Regions from separate parts of the Homo sapiens genome. Here regions 2, 3 and 4 are each reported to be linked to region 1. Evidence: microRNA targets listed by miRTarBase, many of them from high-throughput screens and not tested one by one. Region 1 holds a microRNA gene; each other region holds the end of a gene's coding sequence.
Evidence for each region. The annotated mature microRNA hsa-miR-6721-5p reads UGGGCAGGGGCUUAUUGUAGGAG and lies in region 1 at 1,421-1,443, shown strand. An mRNA with a match to its seed (bases 2 to 7 or 8) in the 3' UTR can be bound and repressed. Matches are read on the target gene's strand: a 7mer-m8 pairs with bases 2 to 8, a 7mer-A1 pairs with bases 2 to 7 and ends in A, and an 8mer does both.

Region 1 (5,145 bases):
CCCTTGCCCCATCCCCTGCAGGTGGCCAGAATGGATTTGTGGCCAGGGGCATGGATGCTGCTGCTGCTGCTCTTCCTGCTGCTGCTCTTCCTGCTGCCCACCCTGTGGTTCTGCAGCCCCAGTGCCAAGTACTTCTTCAAGATGGCCTTCTACAATGGCTGGATCCTCTTCCTGGCTGTGCTCGCCATCCCTGTGTGTGCCGTGCGAGGACGCAACGTCGAGAACATGAAGTGAGGGGCAAGGGGTCTTGGGCAATGAGGGAACCTAAGGGTACAAAGTGAGTAGTGGATTGGGGGAAGGGGGCATGGTGTGTGTAGAAAAGACTGAGAGAGACCAGAGACAGGGAATGGGGAGAGGACTGCAAAGGTGGTCAGAAAGACAGTAAGGTGGGGGGAGCTGAGGCATGCAGATGGACATCAATGGATCCCACTGGGACCCCTTGCCATGACCCCACAGGATCTTGCGTCTAATGCTGCTCCACATCAAATACCTGTACGGGATCCGAGTGGAGGTGCGAGGGGCTCACCACTTCCCTCCCTCGCAGCCCTATGTTGTTGTCTCCAACCACCAGAGCTCTCTCGATCTGCTTGGTGAGACCCCACCACAGGGCACACCTCCCCCAGCCATGCCTCCCCTCCTGAAACCTTCCCTAGAATATCTTCTCCTAGAGATCCTCAATTCCCCTTCCTCTGGGACATTGCCCCCTTGCCTCCCACTCAGGCCTTCATTCCCTGGGTAGAACTGCCCTCATAAGCAGGTTACATATACTTTTGGTCACCCTTTCCTTCACTTGGGGCCCCCCTCCCTGCCTAGTCTCCTCCTTCACCTCCAGTCCCTACCAGAGGGTGATGAGCTGGGTGAGGTGGGTTGCCTTCTGTGACACTCTGCCTCCACCCCGATCCTCACCCACTCCCACCCTGCCCAAGGGATGATGGAGGTACTGCCAGGCCGCTGTGTGCCCATTGCCAAGCGCGAGCTACTGTGGGCTGGCTCTGCCGGGCTGGCCTGCTGGCTGGCAGGAGTCATCTTCATCGACCGGAAGCGCACGGGGGATGCCATCAGTGTCATGTCTGAGGTCGCCCAGACCCTGCTCACCCAGGACGTGAGTCATCCTGGGGAAATGGGGGATTGGAGGGATACAGAGTAGAACAGTTGTAAATAAACTGATATGCAGGGCCAGTGGGCCTCAAAGGTCCCATTATAACATCACACCTATTCTGACTCCTCCATATGTATTTGTCTTCTTTGACCCTCTTTCTCCCCCAGGTGAGGGTCTGGGTGTTTCCTGAGGGAACGAGAAACCACAATGGCTCCATGCTGCCCTTCAAACGTGGCGCCTTCCATCTTGCAGTGCAGGCCCAGGTGACTACTGCTCTTCGTTCTGCTACTCAGCTGCCAACCCCCACCATTCCCTCATCTCTGGGCAGGGGCTTATTGTAGGAGTCTCTGAAGAGAGCTGTGGACTGACCTGCTTTAACCCTTCCCCAGGTTCCCATTGTCCCCATAGTCATGTCCTCCTACCAAGACTTCTACTGCAAGAAGGAGCGTCGCTTCACCTCGGGTGAGGGCTTTGAGCAGTTCTGGGGTAGGGTGTGTCCGGAGAGGCTGGGAGGACATCCCTGTGAGGCAGGGGGATCATTCAGTGTCAGAGCCATGAGATGTCTACACAGTCATCTAGTCTAACCCCACATCAGCCAATAAGTCTTTACTAAGCACCCACCATACCCTGCCAGATGGGTAGCACTTGGTCCCACCAAGAGAGGCTGTTACTAATCTTAACAGGAAAGATAAGGCCTGTGTGCACAAAGCTGTAATGAATAACACTCATTCAGCAGTAAATGCCAAACCCAGAGGAGGGGGGCTGGAGGGGTGCTGAGGAGATGTCTGAACTGGGGATTGGAGAAGGCTTTGTATAGGAGAAGGGCCTCAGAAGTGGCAGCTGGCAAGCCCAGGGATGGTTGTCCAGGGTTGGGGGAAGAGAACTGAAAGGTTGAGGAAGAGTATCACTCGGAAGCTGGGCCCCACCTGTGGGCAAAGACCTGGGTGGACAGGCCATGATGGTGCTCCCCTTGCCCCAGGACAATGTCAGGTGCGGGTGCTGCCCCCAGTGCCCACGGAAGGGCTGACACCAGATGACGTCCCAGCTCTGGCTGACAGAGTCCGGCACTCCATGCTCACTGTTTTCCGGGAAATCTCCACTGATGGCCGGGGTGGTGGTGACTATCTGAAGAAGCCTGGGGGCGGTGGGTGAACCCTGGCTCTGAGCTCTCCTCCCATCTGTCCCCATCTTCCTCCCCACACCTACCCACCCAGTGGGCCCTGAAGCAGGGCCAAACCCTCTTCCTTGTCTCCCCTCTCCCCACTTATTCTCCTCTTTGGAATCTTCAACTTCTGAAGTGAATGTGGATACAGCGCCACTCCTGCCCCCTCTTGGCCCCATCCATGGACTCTTGCCTCGGTGCAGTCTCCACTCTTGACCCCCACCTCCTACTGTCTTGTCTGTGGGACAGTTGCCTCCCCCTCATCTCCAGTGACTCAGCCTACACAAGGGAGGGGAACATTCCATCCCCAGTGGAGTCTCTTCCTATGTGGTCTTCTCTACCCCTCTACCCCACATTGGCCAGTGGACTCATCCATTCTTTGGAACAAATCCCCCCCACTCCAAAGTCCATGGATTCAATGGACTCATCCATTTGTGAGGAGGACTTCTCGCCCTCTGGCTGGAAGCTGATACCTGAAGCACTCCCAGGCTCATCATGGGAGCTTTCCTCAGCACCTTCACCTTCCCTCCCAGTGTAGCCTCCTGTCAGTGGGGGCTGGACCCTTCTAATTCAGAGGTCTCATGCCTGCCCTTGCCCAGATGCCCAGGGTCGTGCACTCTCTGGGATACCAGTTCAGTCTCCACATTTCTGGTTTTCTGTCCCCATAGTACAGTTCTTCAGTGGACATGACCCCACCCAGCCCCCTGCAGCCCTGCTGCACCATCTCACCAGACACAAGGGGAAGAAGCAGACATCAGGTGCTGCACTCACTTCTGCCCCCTGGGGAGTTGGGGAAAGGAACGAACCCTGGCTGGAGGGGATAGGAGGGCTTTTAATTTATTTCTTTTTCTGTTGAGGCTTCCCCCTCTCTGAGCCAGTTTTCATTTCTTCCTGGTGGCATTAGCCACTCCCTGCCTCTCACTCCAGACCTGTTCCCACAACTGGGGAGGTAGGCTGGGAGCAAAAGGAGAGGGTGGGACCCAGTTTTGCGTGGTTGGTTTTTATTAATTATCTGGATAACAGCAAAAAAACTGAAAATAAAGAGAGAGAGAGATCTGGGTGTTGGTGGTTGCATTTGTTAAGGAATTGAAGAAGCAGTTCTTGCCCAGGCAACCTGCCCCCAGCCAGAAGACTCAGGGGCAGGCCAAGAACACAGGCCTCCCCCTTTCTTCAGCTCTCTGAAGTTTCCATTGTTCATTGCTCTTTGGTGGCTGATAGCCTTATCTGCAGCTCACAGTCGGCCAATCCCAGAGGATTAGTGGGTCCGGTTTCTGTATAAATTAGGGGGCAGGGGTGCTGTAGAGGCTTCTTATCGATGATTGACGCCGAGGCCCAGGCTGTTGTCCTCACAGGAGCCTGGTTAATGACATGGCAGACACAGTGGCTGTGGTCAGCCTGGAGTGGACTACACTGCCACTCTCACCAAACAATAAGTGAAACTGTTGGGCTGGGGACAGGATTTCAGAAGAGAACGATGGTAAAGTGGAGAGGCATGAGGATAGTGAATGTTGGAGAGGGGCTTGGAGGAAAGAGGGAATGCCTGAATGGAGAGGGGTCTTGGGGAAAGTTGGGGAATAGAAGTCAAGGCGGGAGGAGTGTGAGGACTCACAGGCACCTAGCCTCTCCTCCAGCAGCAGCACCTGGTCGCTGAGAGATTCGATCCGGTCACCCCGGCCCCACAGCTCAGCCACCTGTTCTGGCTGCAGCTCTTCAGGCGGCACGGGCAGCACCGCTCTGACCCAGGCCCCAGCCTGACCGGCCCACTAGAAAGGAAGAGATGCCTCAGGGTATTGACAGTGACGTCTGGCCTCGCCCCACCCAGCAGGCTTGGCTCACCTGCTCCAGCCGCTCCAGGCGCCCTCGCAGCTCGTGAATCTCCTGCTTCAGAGCGCGCTCATCTTTTTCCGCCTCCCGAACTAGGGACAAAGGAGACCAAGAGTGTGACCACTACCCGAGCCCGGACGCCCGTCCCGAGTCCCTCGGGTGGCCCGTACTCCTGCCCACTCACCGGCCACGCTGAGTATGCTGGCACTGGTTGGGGGCTCTGGGGACCCCTCCATGCAGGTGCGCCCGTCCACGCCTAGCACTAGGTCATGGGGGCAGCCGCAGGTGAAGCTGCCTGCCGTATTAAAACAATGGTGCGAGCAGAGGGTGATGCTGGTCCTACATTCATCCACGTCTAGTTACCGAAAAAAGGAAGGGGCTGAGAGAGGGGGCGGGGGCAAGCACCTGGGTAGGTGGGGAGGACAAGCTGACTCACCCACATGACAGTGCTTCCCTCCCCAGCCGGGGGCGCACTCGCACTGGTCAGGCCTAACGCAGACGCCTCCGTTCAGGCAAGGCTTGGCGCAGATGGCTGAGGACAGAGGAAGTGGGGTTCAGACTCAAACCGACGACCCAGCTCCCCAGCTCCGTGGGGCGCGCCTCCCGCAAGGCCCGGAAGACCCAGCCTCACCTTCACAGGTGAGCGCCCCCGGGTGCCGCTTCTTCCAGCCCTGGCAGCACACTGCATGGGTCTGCTGAACCTCCCGCCTCACCTCCCGCCACATAACGCGGTACATGGTCCTGGAACACAGCGCCCGGCTCAGGACCCTGAGTACGGGTCCTAGTTGGGGTTCTTGGGGTCCCATCTCCCCATCCCTCACCTGTAAGTGCTGCAGATGCGCCTCCCAGCGCACAAGGTCAGGTAGGGCTTGTACACTGGTTGGCTGTAGGACTCGTTGTAGTGGAGCGGGACCACCAGTGTCTGCTTGGAGCAGACTCCCTGACTGCGTCCATGCCAGAGGATGAGGTGGGAGAGATTGAGTAGGCCAGGCCCTGGGGAGCCAGGAGTCCCACTTCCCTCAAGAGGCTACTGAGGCCCCCCGCTCTCCCTCCAGATGAC
Region 2 (5,145 bases), not on the chromosome of region 1:
TCCAAACACACAAGTTTGAAGGTATCACCCCCGTCATACCTTTTTTTTTTTTTTGAGACAGAGTCGCTCTGTCACCCAGGCTGGAGTGCAGTGGCATGATCTCGGCTCATTGCAACCTCTGCCTCCCAGGTTCAAGCGATTCTTATGCCTCAGCCTCCCAAGTAGCTGAGATTACAGGCGTGCGCCACCACACGGGGCTAATTTTTGTATTTTTGGTAGAGACGGGGTTTCACCATGTTGGCCAGGCTGGTCTCAAACTCCTGACCTCAAGTGATCCACCTGCCTCGGCCTCCCAAAGTGCTGGGATTACAGGCGTGAGCCACCGTGCCTGGCTTTTTTTTTTTTTTTTTTTTTTTTTTGTGATGGAGTCTCACTCACTCTGTCACTCAGGCTGGAGTGCAGTGGCGCGATCTCGGCTCACTGCAACCTCCACCTCCCGGATTCAAGCAATTCTCCCACCTCAGCCTCCTGAGTAGCTGGGACTATGGGCATGTGCCACCACGCCTGGCTAATTTTTGTATTTTTAGTAGAGACAGTGTTTCACCATGTTGGCCAGGATGGTCTCGAACTCCTGGCTTCAAGTGATCTGCCTGCTTTGGCTTCCCAAATTGCTGGGATTACAGGCAACAGCCACTGTGCCCAGCCAATTCCTGTCATATCTGTAGGGTATTTTTTGTCTGTTTTATTTGCCCCTTGCTGGAATGTCCCAATCCATTTTCCATTTGACCCTGTACATTCTCCCTGGCCTACTCCAGGAATCAACAGGAGCTTAGCTTGGTACGATTGTGTAGCCCCTTCTGCACCATAGGCCAGGTCTGGCATTTAAGTACTTTGGAATCAGTAAATGGAGCAAGCATTCCCCTCTAGCCCCCACTGTGTGCACCCAGGCTATCTGATTGAACATCTGAACCAGTTTGTGGTTGCCATGCCAATTCTCTATGGATACCACAGCTTGCTTTCAAACCCCAACTCAGCTGGCTGGAGGCCTTGATTACTCTCCTAGTTCATCTGCCTCTGTTCCTTTGCCCCCCAGCTCCTGGCATCTCTGTGCATAGACACCTCTAAAAGATCATAGACATTCCTAAAAGGACCAGTTCCATGAGATACAGCATGCAAGAGCTTCCTGTTACTATGCCTTTTCTGCCCCCTGATCAGACCCCTTGAATATTGACCCTTAAATGAATCATGCTCAGGTTTGCAACCTCTCTTGGACTTTGCTGTTTGGACTGGTGTCCACTCCCTGGGGGAGCCAACACTATTATTGCCAAATTGTTTTAACTAGCTTCAGCCTACCTGAACCAGCCTCACTCCTTTCTGGCTCATTGAGAATTCTAGCATGTCGTAAGGCCATGGTCTCAGTGCTTATGATACTATCTTACCTTACTTTACCGTTAGTTCATAACCAGCTTTTGAACACATCTTGTCTGATTCTCAAAAAAGTTCTGTGAAAGAGGTAGAGAGGTTATTATTAACTCTCTATTGGAGATGAGGAAACAGACCTGGAGAGGGTAAATATCACGTGTCCAAGGGGACAGAGCTCATCAGTGGAGAACGAGGTCTCCTAATTCCAGTGTCCTCTTCATAACCCAGGTCACTCAGCACATTGAATTTCTACTGCGTGGCAGAGAGCATGCCTCATTTGCCTCTGTGTCTCTCTCTTATACTCTTGTGACAGAGCCTGATTTGAAAAGTCAGTCTTGGAGTCAGTCTAACTCTGCCTCCTACCTCCCTGAGACATTGTGTCCACCAGCTCCCCTCAAGGTTCCTTGGGCCTGTTCCTACCTGGTTCATGGGACCCAAGAATCCTGTGTCCCCCACTTGGGCTGTAACACCCAGCCTGATAGCTTTATTGTCCCACCACTGCCCCCTGGAGAGGAAAGCCTTGATATAGAGTTGGAGCCTCTTTCCAAGGGGGATTGGTAGAATCTTTGAAGAGAAACTACATTTCTGATGTGATGGTGGGGGTTAGCATTTCTCAATGTGGAGAGGGCATGAGGTTCCCTGCTTCCGACCAGGACCAGGATGGAATTTTAAAAAGAAAATCTTTCTCCTGATGGCATGTTGTATGGAGAGGGGATGTGTTTGTTGTATTGTTGTGGGTGAAAAGGATGGATTTCGATAAGAAAAGGAATCTCTCTCACCGTGAGGGGGTGGGGACCTCTCCTCTGATGGAACATAATGTCAGTTTCTAAGGGGAAAGGAAATTTCTTGTAGGAAAGGAATGTTCCTCTTTTAAGGGAGAGGAAGCTCTCTCTCAGGGATTACTAAGTGTGGTGGAAAGGAATACTTACTCTCTCCTTTCTTTCTTTCAATTTTTTAAAAATAGAGATGGGAGGCCGGGCGCGGTTGCTCACACCTGTAATCCCAGCTCTTTGGGAGGCCGAGGCGGGCAGATCACGAGGTCAGGAGATTGAGACCATCCTGGCTAACACAGTGAAACCCCGTCTCTACTAAAAATACAAAAAAAAATTAGCCGGGCGTGGTGGCGGGCGCCTATTGTCCCAGCTACTCGGGAGGCTGAGGCAGGAGAACAGCGTGAACCCGGGAGGTGGAGCTTGCAGTGAGCCGAGATCGCGCCACTGTACTCCAGCCTGGGTGACAGAGCGAGACTCCGTCTCAAAAAAAAAAAAAATAGAGATAGGATCTTGCTATGCTGTCCAGGCTAGTCTTGAACTCCTGGCCTCATGCAATCCTCTTGCTTCGGCCTCTAAAGGTCTCATTTCCTTCCCTCCCTCCCTCCCTCTCTCCCTCCCTCCCTTCCTTCCTTCCTTCCTTTTCTTTCTTTGTTTCTTTCTTGACAAGGTCTCACTCTCTGGCCCGGGCTGGAGTGCAGTGGCGTGATCACAGCTGACTGCAGCCTCAACCTCCTCCTGGGCTCGAGTTATCCTCCCACCTCAGCATCCGAAATAGCTTGGGACTACAGGCACATGCCACCACACCTGACTAATTGTTTTATTTTATTTTTTTTGTAGAGATGGGGTCTCTCTATGTTGCTCAGACTGGTCTCAAACTCATGGGCTCAAGTGATTCTCTCCCCTTGGCCTTCCAAAGTGCTGGGACTACAGGCATGAGCCACCACATCCAGTCTTCCTTTTTTTTTTTTCTAAAGGAGAAATCTCAAATAAAGAAAACTTCCATGCTTTCTCTCCAAAGAGGAAAAACTGTCTCAAGGGAGAACAATTCACATGAGATTGTGTCTGATTTTCTCTCCCTTTCTGATATCCAGCACTTCCTACATGGAGTCCACATACTCTGAGAGGGAGTGGCAAATAATTTCTCCTGTTCGGAGGTAAGGAAGCTGAGGAGGCAAACTTGCCATGGGGGAAACTTTTACTCTGAGAGGCTATTTGTGGGGGCAGTGACTCTAAGGAAACCCCTGTGAGGCTGGGGGAAGATAATGCACTGTTACTTGGGGAAATCTTTCAGGAATCCCAGAAGCACAGAGTGTTGAAGGGAGCTGAGAGATGTGCTGGGCCAGTTCTCGTTTGCTCATAAGGAAGCTGAGGTTCGGGGAAGGGAATGCCCCGCTACTAAGTGACAGCATCAGGACTCCAGCGCAGCTTTTCCAAGTCTCAGCCTGGGGCATTTCCTACCACAGCTGACAGGGGAGGGTGATGCTGGTGAGGAAACTGCTGCTATGAAATGTTTGACCTGTGTGGAGGCATCTCTGGAGTGGGAAGCATTGATTCCTGAGAGAAGGAAACTGGGAAAGAGGATGAAATTAGGGGCTCTGTCCAGCTGAAAGGGGTCAGGGTCATCGTGCAACCCAACAGGTGGACTGTGGGACATCAGCTTGTAGGGGATGCTGAGTTTGGAGGGAGTAAGGAGATAGGTCTCCAGATGTGCGGGGGAGGGGCTCTCACCGAGGTACCCAGGGAATTGTGCCACTCTCTGGGGCAGGAGAAATTTCCCAATCATTTCTTGTCTCTTCAGAGGGAGTTGTCATTTTTAATCTTTTCAAAATCAGAGGAAGGAGGTATGTAAACTAAATCCCAATAAAGCTGTTATTAGACAATGAAAAAGACAAGAACCACAACAACAAAAGCAACAGGGAGGAATGGCTCCGGGGCTGGCTCTGCGGCCCAGAAGTACAGTGATTTCCTCATTTGCAGCTTCAGCTACTCAAGTAACTACTTCTTTTGCCCTGTTCCTTTCTTAATCAGTAAAAAACCAAGGCCAGCTCATCCTGGGGGAGGTCAGAGGTTGCAGGAGAAAGAACTTGACAAACACACAAGCCACCTCTTCATTTACTGTAAAATCCTGTTTAATGTGTAACATTTCAGGCAGAGAGAGGCCTTGGGGACTAGAGGCAGAGGTGGCCTTGACCAACCCCTGCTCCAACTTATCTGCCTGCTTCTCTCTCCCTAACTCCCTCACCCCAGACACCTCCTCCTTTTCCTTGTGGCCAGCAAGCACTATTCCTCCTTTACTAGTGCTGGCCACCCTCCCTTCTCCACCCACATGTCCACAGCACCCCTGCCCTCTGCTCCTCTTACCCACATCCCTCCTCACTGATGTGACTCCAGAAACAGGGTATCTGACAGCACAGGGTTAAGATTAGTTTCATAATTGGAGACGCTGTCGGAGCATCCCATCTCTTGTACCCAGTGGTCCCAGAGAGAGGGAGAGGGAAGAGGGAAGGGTGCAGGCAACAAGGGCAGCCCACACTCCCAGTAACCTTGAGCACTGGCATAGGTGGCCTCTAGCTCCCCACCCCTCCAGCTCCTCAAAAGGAAGGCCCCGGGAGGAAGGGAAGTAGCCAGGGAAGGAAGGTTTTGATCGAGTAATCCCCAGCAGGCAGAGGCCTGTGCACCGGCAGGGGAGAAGGAGGGGCTCGCCCAGGGCAGGGTCGGGGGTGGGATGGGAGGTTGCCTGGTATGTGGCATCAGCAGGCCGAGCAGCGGTCGCTCTTTTCAGCCAGCCCAGCCCCGGTGCCAGGGCTGCGGCGCAGTATGTCTTTCAGGGAGCCATCCTGCTCACTCAGCAGCTTGTTGATCTCATTCTGCTTGTATTCAGGTGAGAGGCGGTGGCCGAAGCCCGAGCCCTTGCGGGAAGGTGGATTGGAGCGGCGCTGGGCTCGGCGGGCACAGGCCCGGATGATGAGGTACACCACCTCGGCCACATTGAGGATGATGCAGATGCCAG
Region 3 (5,145 bases), not on the chromosome of region 1:
GGATTACAGGCACGTGCCATCACACCCGGCTAATTTTTGTATTTTTAGTAAAGACGGGGTTTAACCATATTGGCCAGGCTGGTCACAAACTCCTGACCTCAAGTGATCTGCCTGCCTCGGCCTCCCAAAGTGCTGGGATTCCAGGCGTGAGCCACCACACCCAGCCAACTCTATACTTCTTTTTGAGTTATTTTAACCATGCACTATTACTTTTGTAACTTTCAAAACCATAAGAAGATGTGATGGAAAAGACTGGGAAAAATTATAGCTCAACTCAAAGTGTATATACACTATTTATCTTTTCCCGGACATAACTAATGTGTCTTGTTAAACATTTATCTACTGAAAAATCCATTTAGGAGTCAATATGATCATACATTTTCTTCAAGTCATTTATGTACTAAGCAGAATTACTTCTCACAAAAGAGTCTCAGCTTGTAATGTTAATTAACTTTATTCACATTTTTCCAAGTAAATACAATATTAACTATAAGCTAAAAACAATACATAGTTCTTAGAAAATACAACCCCGAATTATTGTGTGGCCTGGGCTTTGTGATTATGTGCCCAGCCTTTGTTCCTCCAGAATTTTAAAGTGAATGCAGTGCTCAAAACAAACTTACGATAGCACAGGGAAACCTTCCCTAAATAAAGTTTTGTTATTAGAAGAGAAATCCAAAAAGAGGCCTCTACTGCCTTCATTCAAGTGTCGAGAATTTCAAAATGGAAATAATATTAAAAGAGCAATCGATTTTTTTCCATCTCACACTAGTAGGCTTGAAGGAGGCAAATTTGGACCAAAAATCTAGACATAGCTCCTTGCATAGGGTTTGATATTAAGCACACACTTGCACTGAATAACTCCATATCCACCCTATAGTACAAAAATTCATTTCAAATGCAAACGTTGTGCAATGACCAGGTCATATTTTTAAGATCACTCTTTAAAATATCATTTTACTGATCACAAAATTATATAATAAGGATCTTATATGGGTTAGGTATTAAGTTTGATACCAAAGCAACTATAGCATCAAGCTACATAAATATTAGCACCATTTTTTATCTAGTCCAGTGAAATGTAAAACTATCCATCAAACTGTTTTTTACCAAAGCAGTCAACAAGAAAAATTGTTTTACTTCTGATATATGCTTTGCTCCTCCTCCTCTTTGCTAGTAATACTTTTGAACACTTTAAAGAAAGTACAGTCGGCCCTCTGTATCCGTGAGTTCTGCATCCATGGATTCAACCAAATACAAATTGAAAATATTTGGGGGCAAAAAGGATGGTTTCACTTGTGCTGAACATGTACAGGCTTTTTTTTCCTTGTCATTATTCCCTAAACAATATAGTATAACAACTATTTACAGAGCATTTACATTGTATTAGGTATTTTAAGTAATCTAGAGATGATTTAAAGCATACAGGAGGATGTGTCTAGGATATATGCAAATACTACACCATTTTATAGAAGGGGTTTGAGTATCCATGGAGTTTGGCATCCTAAGGGAGGCCTGGAACCAATGCCCCATGGATACTGAGAGGCGACTGTACCATAACATTCCATTTACAAAGTGTGTGCCCAGAACAGCATTATCAACCTGAAAAAGGATAGTGGAAGACCCTACAGATTTTTTTTAACTTACGAATTGTGCAGAATTATCTTCTGGAAGTTATGGCTTCCAATAACAGCCATCTTGCTTGCTCTCGTTCTTACAATTTAGTCAGCTGAGTTCAAGTGACCCAAGTATAAATACCCTTCAAGTTGCTAGCAATTGATCTTCGATGAAACACAATGACAAAGATATTACATATGAAATGGTATAAATATGTGCCTCCTACCTAATACGCAAGTAAGATCACCTATAGCCTATTATACATTTATTCATTTTTAAAATGAATCTTTTGAAGATCCATTTATTCACATTTTTCCAAGTAAATAGAATATTAACTATAACTACTAACTATAATCTTTTAAAGATTCATTTTAAAAGTGAATAAATGTGCTTAGAAATTTTAGGGGGGAGAACACACATAACATACATATAACCAGAGGTGCCAAGTATTTTAACATCTCCTAACTAAGGGCAGTTAAAAGACAAAGAATCGATTCCTGTTCACTTCTCCTCCCGCGGACTTAATGTCCAGCAGAGTGCTAGACAATATTGCTTCAATATTCTATTACTTTAATATTAAAAGCAGTAACAAAATCAAAAAGCATATTTATGACATTGTTTTAATTAAGTTAAAATCAAAATTTTAAAAAGAGTTTTATGTAGCATTTATTTTAAATATCATTGGGTTCTCTGTTTCAGACTTTTTCAACATGAAAGGTAATTTTTAAACTGTCTCACTGTCTTGCAGGTTGTCCCAAGAATTAGGAACATGATTACAACCACATTCATTTCTAGAATGAAAAGAAAGAATTAGGACCATCAGACTGTTAACAACTATCAAATTTTCACAGGTTCAAAAGGTAATTGACACTCTTTAAAAAAGAAAGAAAAGAAACCCTAACCAACTAAGGACTTGGATGTAAGATGAAGGCTTACAATTCATACTGATTTATTAACCATTCATGCACTTTAAAAGCACTTTAAAAATCCCGTTCATTTGTCTTCCACTTAAAAAGAGGAAAAAATTGGCCAATATTTGCCTTCTACATTATATCTCTGTCTGGAGTTTTAAGTAGTAAGTACATTAAATATAAGTTTGTTTTCTAAACAAGAGAAAAGTCTGGCGGTTCAAAGTCTAGAGGAAGTCGGGTTTCTAAGGCAGTCCGTCAGTGTGGGGCCTGCACCACTCTCTAAGGCCGTCTTTCCTAGATTGTCAGCTGCAACACAAGCCTGAGCTGGATGACTAACACCGAACATGCAAGAAGCGACTTTAAAGGAACAGTTTTCACAATCAGCTAGCTACACCATCACAAATTGCCACATTAAGGTGATCTTTAGGTACCTGTGTCGTTTAAAGACTTTAATAATAGTTAATACCAAAATTCACCAGTTACTAGCAAGGCTGTTTTGGACAACATGTAAAATTTCCTCTTTTGAAATATACATCTCAATGATTAGGAGAGATCTGTAAGGAAACAAATTCACCTCAAAACTATGCAAATATTTAAAAAGTTTTTTTAAGCTCACAATACTTCAGTATGTGTTTTCAAAGCTTAAACAGTTATCATGTGTGAAGAGTTTATGGGGAATGAAAGCAATATGTTCTAAAAATTGACTATGGTTTTCCAAAGACCCAGAGAAAAATACTAAGGTAATACTCAGCCTCACGTCCACTCACACATCTTCGGGTGCCAAGCTGGCATAGGCAGAGCACCATTATCTCTTATAAGGAACTTAGCACATATCCTTCTAGCAGATTCTTGTCTCCACAGGATGGAGAAGACATCATTCATTTGATGGAAACCAGTGTTTGTTAAAACCATTTTTCTACCCCCAAAGCAAACATACTAAAGAGAAGGAGCACTATTTACATAAATTTGTGCCTACCCACACACCACCATTCTCTCCCATTAAAGTGTAGATAAGATCTACTGGCTAGGAATCAAAGAGTAACGTATTTCAACCTAAAGTTTGAATACTGTACATCATCAAGACTTTGTTATTGTTAAGTGCTATAAAGAAAAAGAGAAAGTAGGGGTGGGCAGTCTATCTAACAGGCATCTTCACACTGGTCCCCATCCCAGTGGAACAAGCAATGCCAATGTACCAAGTGCAATTCCAGATTGTAAGTTTGAAATGTCATTGCCAGCCATTACAGAAGAGGCAAAAGTCCACAGTGGGTGTATGCCAAAAGGTCAAGTGTGACAAGGGACTGAATCCACAGTATGTATTCTTTAAAAAAAAAAAAAAAGGCAATAAAAAAAGTGAGTCTTTGACTACTCAAAAGAAACTTTACTACTACTGTACACACATATTGTGTTGTGTGCACTTCGTCTATTGGAATGTACTTGAGCTATTAAACTATTAAATAATAACTGCCTAGATGATCACTGAAAGAGAAAAAGAGACCCTCGCCCAGCCCAGATAATTCTTAAATATCACAATCTACATAAAGATGCTGCTGAACTGAAATACAAATAAGTTAAAAATTTTCAGGAACTAGCAAAGTTCTACTTTCATTATACATGGAATCAGTAGTAGTGCTGACACTCATTTTTGACTTGATATTCTTTCACAAACAAAACGGCATATAAGGAAAACGAGTCTTATGCTGTAGGATGGAATGATCTTATAGCTATGGAATCTGGAAAGTTATTTAGAACAAGATGATAATAGGCTCTACCTAAGCTTATGAAAAGAATACTGAACTGTAAGCATCTGTTGCCATTTAAAGGCATTTGGTGTCAGTATCTTAAAAGATTAAGATGCTTTAAAACAAAAACCTTATAAGAATATCAAAGATTTAGGGAATTATCTTCATAAATAACCAAATGTCTATGGCTTCAACTGTCTGCCCTACTGCCGAGGTAGGTGACCAATATTCATCAAAATAAAACAATCTTTTACAAATTCCCTAAAAAAAACCTTGCATAATCAGTTGGTTTCTTAAACCTGTGTCCGTTTCTTTTGATGGTTTTTGTTTTGTTTTTCCTTTCAGTCATTTACACTTTTTAAAAGAGGCTGTCCACGCAAGTGTTTCTTTAAGCTCTTGCCGAATAGCACCTCATGTATTCTGTCATCCACGGGTTCTCTGAGGAGGAAGCCTTCATCTTTCTGTTCTTCTCCACATCCACAGAGTGAGCTCGCTGCCTTTGAGCAACCAGTTTCCTTTTTTCCACCTGTCTTCTGTTCTTGGCTCGTAATGCTGATTCATGAATCTAAAGAGAGTTCAAAATAAAGGATAGTAACTTAAGGGGCTATTATACTAATGTTCAACAGAGGTTGCAATGAAGCTGGCTACTGCCAGGTCAACTGCAGCAGGGCAGAGTCAAGCCCTGCCTCTCTATATAGTTCTTCTTTACATAAAACCTTCCACAGAAGAGCCATTCTCACTTGATGCTGTTCTCACTTGATTCATATCAGGGATAATGAAACTAAGCAACAGCAAATTAAATGTTAGACAGAAATGGTAAGCAACTAATTTGCATGTGCCTCTAGAGTTGGCTCTGGAAAACTGTCCGAACTGCT
Region 4 (5,145 bases), not on the chromosome of region 1:
AACCACTGCTTTGGGAGGGTGGGGTTTCTAGTTCCACAGCAGGCCTTGGGGGGCCTTGCACAGCGGCGGAAACCCACCAGTTTTGGCCCTAGCAGGCTCTTTTTGCTGGCTGAAGTCAGCAGAACCCCAGCCTCCAATGCCAGGCTCTTAAGTCTGTGAGGCATCGGTCATCTGTAAGCCAGGGAAGAGCTGTGCCCAGTGCCTGATGCTTTTTGCCCTCACTGTGTCTCTGGTTCCCTCGCAGGCCGGCCAAGACTTCACCACGGCGTGCCCTCAGTGTGGAGGACGTGGGTGCTCCCAGCCTGGCTCGCACCGTGGGCCGCCTGGTGGAGGTGTTCCCAGACGGCACCAGCCAGCTGCAGCTGCAGCGCTCCCCAGGGGGCACTTTCGGCTTCTGCGTGGCCTCTGGGAATGGGCGCCCAGACTCAGGTATGCCCTCTCCTCTTCCTCAGCCCCATGGCTGGGGCGGCCTTAGCAAACAAGGCAGGGCCTTCTGGCTGTGGTCAGAGGCTTTTCTGGTCTTTGGCTGAGCCGTGCAGCTCTGGGAATTCAGAAAGCCTCTGACTACAGGACTAGGCTTCTCCCCTCAGGGGCTCTTTCTGAATTGTCCAGGGCTCTCTAGGAGTCTGCACCTGCAGAGCCTTTGCCCTAGGCAACTGCAGCTGAGAGTGCGTTGGTGGGGAGTGTGCGGGAGGGGGTAGAGTTGGCAGGTTTGACTCCACTGTCCCCCTGCTGTCTGATGACATCTTGAAATTAGAAGCTTAGGCCGGGCGCAGTGGCTCATGCCTGTAATCCCAGAACTTTGGGAGGCCGAGGCGCCTGGATCACCTGAGGTCAGGAGTTCGAGACCAGTCTGGCCCACATGGTGAAACCCATGTCTACTAAAAATACAAAATTAGCTGGGCGTGGTGGCGCATGCCTATAATCCCAGCTACTTGGGAGGCTGAGGCAGGAGAATTGCTTGAACCCGGGAGGTAGAGGTTGCAGTGAGCCGAGATTGCGCCATTGCACTCCAGCCTGGGCAACAAGAGCAAAACTTCATCTCAAAGGAAAAAAAAAAAGAAATAAATAAATTAGAATTTTGAAGGCCATCTTTGCAGAGGAGAGCCAGAGGGAAACTGTCTGTGCCTGCTGGTTCTCAGCAGTCCCTTTGATGTGGCTGCGTTGAAACGGTTCCTTTCCTCCGGCTGTGGAGTATGTCTGGGCACGTGGAGCATGCCTGTCTGTCTCTGCATCCCGTCCCTCCCTCAGGCCTGTGCCCGATGATTATGTTCAGATGAATCCTGGCTGCAGGCCTCTGACTGGGGTGTGCTCTGGGTCTCAATTCAACCCAGGCAATGGCAGGGAGAAGTCCTGGACATCATTCTGCACTCTGACCAGTTCTCAGTTCCACCCCATCCATGAGTCTTTCAGGGCAACGTGACTTGCAAAAGCCCACGCCCAAGGTCTGTGGTCCAGAATGCATCTCAAGGGCCCATAAAAGACATTCCCCAGAGGATCAGGGAAGGAAGACACGTATGTGAGGGTGGGGAAGGAGGGGAGGGGAAGGAAGGAGAGAGAAAGGGAGAGACAGATACAGAAAGACGAACACAGAAGCCTGCTGCGGCCGGGCTCTGCCGATGGGGGGTTGAGTCCTGTGCTTTGATCTCCTAGCTCAATGCTGTTTAGCCTGGAAAAAAGTCTGCCTGCTACCACATTTGCAGACCACAGCATGAGTTCTCATGTCTGTTCCATCATTGTTTCAGCAAATATATACTAAGCACCTACTATGTGTTATAGATACGGGGGATACAGCAGTAAATGGAACAGACCAAATCCCTATCCTCATGAATATACTACCCAGTGAGCAGTTAGATTGTATCTATAAAATGTGTACTCTTGTTATGTATAATGTGCTACGTATGTCAGATGGTGAAAAGAAAGTTCTGAGAAACAGACAGATAAAGCAGGTGTGGCAGGTGCTGGTATAGACAGGAGTGTGGGGAGGCTTTTCTGAGAAGATGACACTTGAGCAGGGCCGTGGATGGGGCGAGGAAGGGGCCCCATGGGTGTCTGGGGAAGAGCATTCCGGCAGACTGAACAGCAAGTGCGGAGCCCTGGTGGAGGGGCGAGCCTGGCCTGTGAGAACTGTGAGGGTCAGGCTGGACACTGCAGAGCAGGCAACGGGTTGGGAGGAGCAGAGTTTGGAAAGATGGGGTTGTGCCACTGTAAGGGGCTTTGGCTTTCATGCCGAATGAGATGGGAGCCACTAGAGGGCTCGGAGCGAGCACTGAGACTCTCTAATGTCTATGAGAATAGACCCCAGTGGGACACGGGTGGAGCCAGGGAGCCCTGTGTTGAAGCTATTTCAGCAGTCCAGGACAGAGACAGTGGTGCCTGGACTGGGAACGGCTGTGGAGATGGGGAGAGGGGAGAGGGGACAGGGGTTGGATTCTGGTTGATTTGACTATTTGCTGATGAGCTGGACATGTAAGAGGAAGAGAGGACAGGTCTCTGCCTACTCTGGACCTCAGGAGGATAAAAAGTCCTTCCTCACAGGCCTTCCCGTAGCCTCCTCTCCCGTTAGGGGAGCAGGACAGGCCCCCCGGACAGGTGGTGTGAAGGCAGAGGCAGACAACGCAGCATGTTTGTGCTCCGGCACCTCTGCTGGCTATGTGATCTAGAGCAGGCGACATCCCCACTGAGCCTCACTCAGTTCCCTAATCTGTGAAATGAGGATGACAAAACCTACCTAGAAGAGTCATAAGGAGCATTTGGTAAGGCACACAGGAAAGGGCCTAGCATTTTTCTTCCCTCCCCTTCAGAAAGAGAAAGTCTGGGGAAGAGAACCCCAGACAGGGACCAGCGTGATCCGCATTCACCTGTCGATGTGAGTGCACACACAACAGGTCATTGTACTCTGCCGCCCACCCTCCCCCAGAGTCCCTTTTTGCTCCCTTGTAGGCAGTGGGAGCCCCTCCCTGTCACCCGTCAGGGAGCTCTGATGGGCAGGGGTCTCTAGTGACCCAGGGCCCCCGGCACCCTCGCCTGAGTTGGTGCCAGCTCCCCGTTGTGCCCAGGCACTCCCTGGTCCTGCTGCCATCATGGGCGCTGGATGGCACACAGGGGTCCCCACGCACATGAAGCCTGGCGAGTGCTGGGGCCTCCGTGTCCCAGGCCATCCTCCAACAGCAGAGGGTCGCTTCTTCCAGGCTCCAAGGGGCTGTGAGGAGGGCTGGCTTGCGCCCCGCACTGAACCGGCAGGATGCTGGTATTAACTTGCTGGCTTTCACATCCGACTCTATATGAGCCTGTGAGAACAGCAGGCTTTGCCTTCTGCTTCTAATTGGATACAACATAGAGATCACACATCCTCAACAAAGGCCATTTCCAGCAGACAATAAATGCCTATGACAGCAGGCTGTCATATTTGTGTCACGAATTTCAGTTGCGAAACCTACCCGAGTCTCCCCAAAATGGCAGGCGTGACGTCAGTGTCTGGCCTAGCTCTGGCAGCATTCTTTCAGGGTTTATCATTAGTCCCCACCTGCAACTCCCACAGCACATCAGACACTTCTCTGGGTTTGCCCCAGGGGCCCCTTCTTACCTGCCCCCTCCCCGTGCCACCAACCCGTAGACAGGGAGGGCAAGCAGTGAAAGGTCCATCTAGAGGAGGTAAAAGACAGGGCTGAGGGAAAACGCCTTGTACAGTCAGGATGGCAGATGTACTCTGTCAGGGAAGACAGCCCCACAGAAAAGGCTCGGCTTGGCCAAGAAGCAACAAAAGGGATTCTACACCTCAGACCAGGGAGGGGGAATGTGTACAAAGATTGGATTTACTAAATTCAGAGCCACAGACTTTCAGGTACTTCGGTGAAGATCAGTGCTCTTTCAAACCCACACTTCAGAGGCAGGCTTTAAAACGCCTGACTTCTGTCAGGGCCACAGGCTGGGCTGCCCAAAGCTCCTACGGGGCTGGGGGATCCGAGAGAGGACTTCCCACTAGTCCAAGATGTGGTGACTAGTTTCAAGCCAGAGATTGAGGAGCAGACCTGATGCCCTTTCGGGCCCCTGCTAAGAACCTGATTCGAGGAAAAGGAAGTGAAGACAGTAACGCGTGGGCAGTGGCCTCATGTCTGAAATGCAGAGTGAGCCGAGCTGGGCTGCGAACAGCGAGGGTGCCAAAGGCTGCGCTGAGCAGCCTGAATTCCGCCAGTGCTGATGCCCACACCAGGGGTGTGCCCCGCAGTCCCTCCAGCAAACTCAGCTTGTGTCTCAGCCCCTGTGTCCACCCAGCATGAAGCATGGGCATCAGGGGGTCCAGCCTGCCCTGGGAGAGCCAGCACCTCACTTACTCTCCCAGGTGGGAGCAGCTGGAGGGGAATTTGAAAGGTTTCCAGCCGCGGTTGAGGCCGGCGGGCGGGGGTTGGGGGCAGGGGGCCTCCTCAGCTGGACACTTCCCAGCCCAGCCAGCCCAAGCCCCACAGGGCCTGCCCCACTGACGGGGGGCTCCCTGAGAGCCGGAGCCTGGCAAAGAAGCAGAGAAGCTAGTTCCCGCAGGCTGGCTCTTGGCACCTTCTAGACCCAGGCAGGGCCTCTTTGGGGTGGGGAGGAGGGGGCATGTGCAGAAGAGGAGAGGGAGCCACCGCAGCTTTGAAATATGTGGCTAGAATTTTTATTTTTCCTGGGGTTTTTTGCTCAGATGCTTCCCCATCCCAATTGAGGAGCCATATCTGAGTAAGACTGAGGCCAGTGTCAGTCTTTGGCAATAGAGTGCAGCAAACCAGGCTTGGATGTGGCTCAGCCACTTTTGCTCTTCCGATGATACCTTCCCACCACCCCGGCCTTTACGCTGGGCCTGGGTGACCTGAGGCAGCAACTGGATCATAGTGCCAGGCACTGAGTAGGTATGGTTCCTAATTTTTAAAAACTATTTTCCTCCCAATTCTACAAGAAAAGCTCATCTCAGAAAAAGATTAGCTCACTCACTGTCAGGTATAAATAAATGACAACAGTTTAACGCGTTATTTGCACTAGGAGCATTTCCACTTTAAAAGCAGAGACAGTGGAATGGAGTTAGACCATGGAGGAGGCGCACTGTATCTATGTCTAAAGCCAGTTGTGGTTGTGAGATGGAATAATGAGGGGTGTGTGTATGTGTGCATG

Region 2: the mRNA of GJB1 is a reported target of hsa-miR-6721-5p. Seed matches in the 3' UTR shown: 7mer-m8 at 4,842-4,848.
Region 3: the mRNA of CCSAP is a reported target of hsa-miR-6721-5p. Seed matches in the 3' UTR shown: 7mer-A1 at 3,656-3,662.
Region 4: the mRNA of KIAA1614 is a reported target of hsa-miR-6721-5p. Seed matches in the 3' UTR shown: 7mer-m8 at 3,586-3,592, 7mer-A1 at 3,934-3,940, 7mer-m8 at 4,304-4,310 and 7mer-m8 at 4,469-4,475.

What each region holds. Positions count from the first base shown.
Region 1 is chr6:32,166,382-32,171,526 of GRCh38, reverse strand. MIR6721 (microRNA 6721) reads left to right here and starts at 1,411; the gene lies at 1,411-1,497. EGFL8 (EGF like domain multiple 8) reads right to left here. Exons shown (of 9, transcript NM_030652.4): 3 at 4,907-5,029; 4 at 4,717-4,826; 5 at 4,522-4,617; 6 at 4,270-4,440; 7 at 4,098-4,177; 8 at 3,871-4,024; 9 at 3,246-3,617. The coding sequence ends at 3,571. It overlaps AGPAT1 (1-acylglycerol-3-phosphate O-acyltransferase 1), which reads left to right. Exons shown (of 7, transcript NM_006411.4): 2 at 22-230; 3 at 457-590; 4 at 927-1,102; 5 at 1,267-1,362; 6 at 1,489-1,561; 7 at 2,079-3,315. The coding sequence starts at 31. The coding sequence ends at 2,251. It overlaps PPT2-EGFL8 (PPT2-EGFL8 readthrough (NMD candidate)), which reads right to left. Exons shown (of 16, transcript NR_037861.1): 10 at 4,907-5,145; 11 at 4,717-4,826; 12 at 4,522-4,617; 13 at 4,270-4,440; 14 at 4,098-4,177; 15 at 3,871-4,024; 16 at 3,242-3,617. RefSeq lists enhancers at 1,029-2,228, 3,737-4,489.
Region 2 is chrX:71,224,300-71,229,444 of GRCh38, reverse strand. It overlaps GJB1 (gap junction protein beta 1), which reads right to left. Exons shown (of 2, transcript NM_000166.6): 2 at 3,929-5,145. The coding sequence ends at 4,886. Among named protein-coding and RNA genes, the nearest start is that of GJB1, 3.6 kb to the right of the region's middle.
Region 3 is chr1:229,320,577-229,325,721 of GRCh38, forward strand. CCSAP (centriole, cilia and spindle associated protein) reads right to left here. Exons shown (of 4, transcript NM_145257.5): 4 at 439-4,835. The coding sequence ends at 4,659. Among named protein-coding and RNA genes, the nearest start is that of CCSAP, 20 kb to the right of the region's middle.
Region 4 is chr1:180,945,059-180,950,203 of GRCh38, forward strand. KIAA1614 reads left to right here. Exons shown (of 9, transcript NM_020950.2): 9 at 245-5,145. The coding sequence ends at 530. It overlaps KIAA1614-AS1 (KIAA1614 antisense RNA 1), which reads right to left. Exons shown (of 2, transcript NR_145481.1): 2 at 4,632-5,145. Among named protein-coding and RNA genes, the nearest start is that of KIAA1614-AS1, 7.3 kb to the right of the region's middle. RefSeq lists an enhancer at 4,367-4,917.